Linked DNA regions of Homo sapiens: region 2 is linked to region 1. Evidence: fine-mapped expression QTL. A gene starts in region 1. The other region holds a variant in brackets. All regions are shown on one strand. Distances are between the middles of the regions. Region 1 holds the start of CA3-AS1 (CA3 antisense RNA 1). Region 2 has its middle 80 kb from the start of CA3-AS1.

What was found. PIP is the estimated chance that this variant, and not a neighbour inherited with it, causes the effect.
Region 2: its variant is fine-mapped to the expression of CA3-AS1 in whole blood (TOPMed, PIP 0.95).

The regions. Positions count from the first base shown.
Region 1 is chr8:85,463,188-85,466,103 of GRCh38, reverse strand. It overlaps CA3-AS1 (CA3 antisense RNA 1), which reads left to right and starts at 1,189. Exons shown (of 3, transcript NR_121630.1): 1 at 1,189-1,522. CA2 (carbonic anhydrase 2) reads right to left here and starts at 2,097. Exons shown (of 7, transcript NM_000067.3): 1 at 1,989-2,097; 2 at 635-832. The coding sequence starts at 2,022. RefSeq lists an enhancer at 1,489-1,988 and silencers at 1,632-2,101, 2,212-2,531, 2,602-2,861.
Region 2 is chr8:85,543,435-85,546,350 of GRCh38, reverse strand. No RefSeq gene overlaps it. Among named protein-coding and RNA genes, the nearest start is that of CA3-AS1, 80 kb to the right of the region's middle. The variant G/A (reference allele first, on the strand shown) is at 1,374.

The sequences.
Region 1 (2,916 bases):
CTATTACCAATAAATACGGTAATTGGTTTTGTCAGTAATGGGCCAGGTATGTTCACCAACTCTAAAACATCTTCGTTTGTGAAATGAATTTCTGAGTAGATATCAAAACATGCTGCCATCTTTATCACACTAGCCCAATACTAAGAAATACTCATAAGTAAAACATTTTCCCAGAATTTCAGTATTTTAAATTGGCACGTTTTTGTTACTCTTCTCGCTGCTAACTTGAAGATAAGGCTCACTAAGATATACTTTTTAATGGATATGCATCAGCTCTGCAAGACAAAATATTTTACAATCTTAAAAGTTCAATTGGTGCAAATCTCATCGTGACTGATCTTTATTGCGAGGGGACTTTGCACCTTTTGTGATTTTTCACAGGCATATCGCAGTTATTCAATGGCCTTCATAGAAGCCAAGGGTTTTACAGGGAAGAAACGGCCCCGGGACACTTCAAACTAATTAGCCTACTTCTCAGAATCTGAGACCTAATGAAAATGATCAGGGTGGCATCCTTGAGTCCTGAGACAAACTGTATTATTAAGAGGGTTCCTGCCACTGTTCCTGGCTCCTTCCATTAAGCTCGGAAAACAGCTACTGGCTAAAAGACACAAGTTATTTTCTAAACACTGACCTGCTTTGTCCTGAGAGTCATCAAACTCCACGTTGAAAGCATGACCATTGTTGAGGATCCTCAGGGAAGTTGCTTGATCATAGGAAACAGACAGGGGCTTCAGGGAAGGGTCATACTTGGCTGTATGAGTGTCGATGTCAACAGGGGACTGGCGCTCTCCCTTGGCAATGGGGAAGTCCTTATGCCAGTGCTCAGGTCCTGGGGGAAAGAAGACATGTGAATCCCCCATTGTGGGGAAAGGTACACCCAGACCCCTAGAGAAGAGCAATCATTCCGGAGCCAATCTGCTCAGTTCCAATTTTAGAAGCATCACTTAACAATGGGCTAAATTTTGGGAAAACACGTAATCTGTGCCTCAGTTTCCACATTTGTAATATGGGATAATTAGAAATCTACCTCATAGATGTCGCTGTAAGAATTAGAATCGATATATGTAAAGCTCTTAGATCACTGAGTGCTATATAAATATTAGCTATTTTAAGGTCGTTTTACTGAAATTCAGCAACTGAAATCGGGCAGACACTAATGTCAGGGCTTGTGGTTGCGATTTTGGGATATGCAAGCTCACTTAAGACATTCAAGGAGGTCTGGATCCTTTCCTCACTGCCCAGGCCCGGGCCCACCCCACCTTTAACCGTCAGGGTTCCCCACTACCTGGGAAGCCCCACACCCTCCAAAGATGCGCTAGGTGCGCCAGACGCATGCTCCTCTGCTCCGCTGGCTCCGAAGAACCAGATCTGAGGCCAAGATAAAACCCGATTCCTGATGTCCGACCCCCTAACATTAGAAGTCGAGAGATGAAGGGAAAACTCGGAAATCAGAGCCATGGATTCAAACCAGCACTGGAAAATGCCCCGGGACAGTTCGTGCTGAGCGCCTTAGCCACAGGTGGTGCTGAAGCTGGAGGGGTGGGGTGGGGGTGGAAGGTGGGGGAGGGGGGAGGGGAGTCTCTTAATTTCTCTGCGATCAACAACTAGAATTTTCCGTTACAACCCTTTCCCGCCTCCTCCTAGGTCCGGTTAAAATGATCCCCAGGTCGGGACCCGGGAGGGACTGTCCTCGGGTCCCGCGGCCAGGGCTGCGCCTCCCCTCCCTCGGGCCCTACGCGCCTCCGGCGGACGCGGGGATTCCTCCACAGTGGCCTCGCAGCTGGGGCAAGGGGGACATCCCCGGCGCCGCGGAGCCGCGAGCGGAGCGAGCGCCCGGGGCGCACCTGAGCCTCCAGCACTCCCCGCGGCCGCGGTAAACAGCATGTGCGGGCGCTGCGGGCCCCGGGCCGGCATCCGGGCTCGGGGATCGGGGATCGGGGATCGGGGATCGGGGCGCCCCCGCGCTGGCCGTCGCCGGCACTCACCGTTGTGTTTGCCGTACCCCCAGTGATGGGACATGGTCGCGCTGGCGGTCGGGGCAGGGCAGGAATCGGCACCGATCTGGCGGCGGCGGCTTGGGCGCCTGCACTGTGTGTCCGCGGGTCGCGCCGGCACCAGCTTTTATAGGCTCCCGCCAACTTCGTGCTCGGGGGCGGCCCGGGGGAGGGGGCTCGGGTGGACCTAGGCGACAAGGGGAGGTGGTGACGGGCGGAGGTGAACTCCCCGCGCTCGGGGCGGGGCGGGCCGGGCGGGCGAGTCTCCGGGGGCGGGGAAAACGCCCTCTCGGCTGGCGCCCGGCGGGGCTCCGGGGCTCCGGGGCTCCGGGGCTCCTCTCCCGCCGCCCGGCTCCCCTCGGCCCACGGCAGGGCCCCGGTGTCCTGGGCTGGCAGCGAAGCTCGGAGCTCTGGGCGTGCGGCGGCTGCGGTGGCTCCTGGGCTCCTCCGTCCAACCCGGGCCGCGGAGCCTCTACGCGCACCCCATCCCCCTCCCGGCTGCGGAGTCTGGCGGCGGCGGGGACTGCTCGGGACCCGGACCCCCGGCGCCTTTCGTCCCCTGTCCCCATTGTGACCTGTCTCTTGGCCCCGGAGCCCTCCCGCCCCACCCGCGCCGGGGTCTCCAGCGCGAAGGGCTCAGTCTCTGGTGTCCCCGGCCTGGGGCTGGCAAGCTGGGTTAGGAGCTATGACCTTGGGGCAAATAGGGATACGATCCTAGAGGCGCAGGGGAGCGCGCAGCATGAGTGCTGAGAGGCACGCGCCCTCTGCTGCACGGCCGTGGAATAAAACGAGACAACGGCCCCACAGTCCCCTGCCCGCAGCCCACGCTCGGGCGAGCCTGGAGGATTGCATTTCCTCGTAGGCTGGCAGAGCCTTACATGAAGCGCTCATCTTCTCCTACTTTCCTCCTCTTTAAAAA
Region 2 (2,916 bases), 80 kb before region 1:
ACCACCCCACCCCTTATCCTGGTCATTCATTCCTCAAGTTGGTGCTCTCCAGATATCCCGATTCTGACCTTCTCATTACAGAAGCGAATGCAGAGTGTTCCCTACTTGAAGTCTTTACTTCTGTGTATGTTGGCAAGCAAAGAAAACAGGGCAAAACAAATGTGCCCTTTATCTTTAGTGGTTAATTTATGACAACCAAAAATGTTGCCAGACATTGCCAAAAGTCTTCTGAGGGGGAGGGGGCAAAATTACTCCTGCTTGGGAGTAAAAACCACAGCTCTAGAGAACTTATTAAATTTGTAATTATATGTTTATTTGTGTAATTTTAAGTAATTACTGTCTCTTCCACTAGACCGTAAATTCCAGAAGGCTAGGATCATCTCCATTCTAAAACATGCCTAACTTATCTTCCTGGCACATAGTAGCTACATATTGAATATATATTGACTTAGTTAATGAATAAATGATATGGTCCATTTTATGAGCAATTACAATAATTCTGAAAGATCCAGGTTAGTGTCTACATCACATTTCATGAGAAAAATGACTATTCTTGTTATGCAACATAAATTATATTTACAAACTTTAACAATATATAAGGGACATGACATTTGAGACATATGAGTAACTTTTTTCTTATATTATTATTTGAAAAACTTACAAGTAGAAGAGTTAAAATTTTTTCAAAAATTGATTTGAATTTTAATTTATGTTGTATTTCTCCACAAATTATATCTGAATGTTTTTGAGTATGTAAGTACATTTATTAATGCTGATGGCAGAATAATTGTTTAGTTCTCTTAAAACATTTTATTAACCGGGTGTGGTGGCTCACACCTGTAATCCCAACACTCTGGGAGGCTGAGGTGGGCAAATCACTTGAGGTCAGGAGTTCAAGACCAGCCTGGTCAATATGGTGAAACCCCGTCTCTACTAAAAATACAAAAATTAGCTTGGCATGTGGCATGTGCCTGTAGTCCCAGCTACTCACGGAGGCTGAGGCAGGAGAATCTCTTGAACCCAGGAGGCGGAGGTTGCAGTGAGCCGACATTGTGCCACTGCACTCCAGTGTGAGAAACAGAGCAAGACTCTGTCTCCAAAAAAAAAAAAAAAAAAGCTAAATTTATTATAATTTTAAAAATTTTAATTACAAAATTAATATTCACACACTCTAAAAAAATAATTTAAAATAATTTAAACTATACAGATAAAGTAAATCCCTTGACTGTTTCACAAACTAGTGTTGTCCTCATAGTTGAAAACCGTAGTTTTGTTTTTTAATAAGTATTAAGATATTAAGGTTTCTTCCCCATACACACATTTATTTCCTGGCCCTTGACTCCAGTTAGCGGCATTCATCACCTTGGAGGAGA[G/A]CTAGCACACTCAAATGAACCAAACAGCAAGTCTAGTTCTTACGTTTCTAAGCAAACTTTTAAAAATCATGACAAAAACCATAGTCTTGAAAACCTTTTTTAAAATTTTTGATTACAAATATGGGGTTTTCGGTTTTGTTTTGAGTTTTAAGACTCAGAAGTAAAATTTGGGCAGAGCTGAGTAAAAGGGAAAAAAGCCACAAACAATAGCTTGAAAAGAGAATAGCTGAAGATTCAGAACAACTACCCCACTTCCATCCCTTCCCCCACCAGCATAGTAGATAATACCAGTCCTGGGAATGGAGATAGAGCAACAGTCAGACGTCCATGTAGGTCTTGAGGAAGAGAAAACTTTGACCAGGTGCTACAAAATTGATGGAAGGAGGGCTGTTGCAATGATCTATTACTGCATAACAAATTACCATAAAATTTTAATGGTTCAAAACAAAAGTAATTATTTTATTACCTCTCACAGTTTCTGTTAATCAAGAATTCAAGAAGGGCTGGGCTGGGTGGTTCTGGCTCTGAGAAGCCTATATATTCAGTGACCATTCCTGAGAATGGTATGATACCCCTGTCTGCGTGGGCAGACACCAAGTGGAGACCATTCCCGAACGTGATGGCCCTTCAGCACCTGTGAATATACATGACAGCTAAGGTAAGAGAAAGTCCTGAATTGATATCTGGAAGTGACCAGATTAAGTTTTCTACCATCAGTCCACATTGGAGCTCAACATATAATCTCTATGTTGATTTACAGAAAAATAAAGAATGCTATTAATTTCATTTTCGTATGATACCCACTATATTACTATTCCCTCTTGGGTGAACATTTAGATTGCTTCCAATTTTTTACCATAGAAATTATGCTGCAATGACAACTTGTACATGTTTATATGTGTACATGTCTATTTCTCTAGAAAAGATAAAATTTAAATAAAAATTCAACAGATTCTTTGTGCTTTTCCACAAAGAATTATCCTGCCCAACCGTTCATTGTATTACTAGAATATGAGCTACTTGAGGACAGGGATTTTTGTGTGTTCTGTGAATATTACTTGTACAATAAACTTACGTTGAACACAGTTATCCTTTATGTATCAAATAACTCTATTCTTTCTACTCAATATGTTTATCTTTGGAATAATCTCATGAGCCCTTTTTCTCAGAGAGCTCCATGTTTCCTGAATAAAACTAATGCCACAAGCAGTCTTACAAACCAGCTAAGGAAGATTGAGTAGGAATTTGAGTAGGAAGCTGGCTAGGGGACCCTTGCTCAAGAATATCAACCCTGTCATCTTTGAAGCTGTAATTTTTACAGCATAGTTGTTAAGGGTCTTGAGGAGGTTTGATCCTCTACTAAATGCAAGTATTCTCAGTAGATAATAAATCTTCTGCCCCCACCCATCACCACCAATAAATTTTACCATAATTATCAGCTGGTAATTTAAACATGGCTTGACAGAAACCAAGAGGACCAATTTTAATTGAGATTTTTTAAAAATAAGGAGACCAAAAAGAAGGACACCAAAGACATAAAATC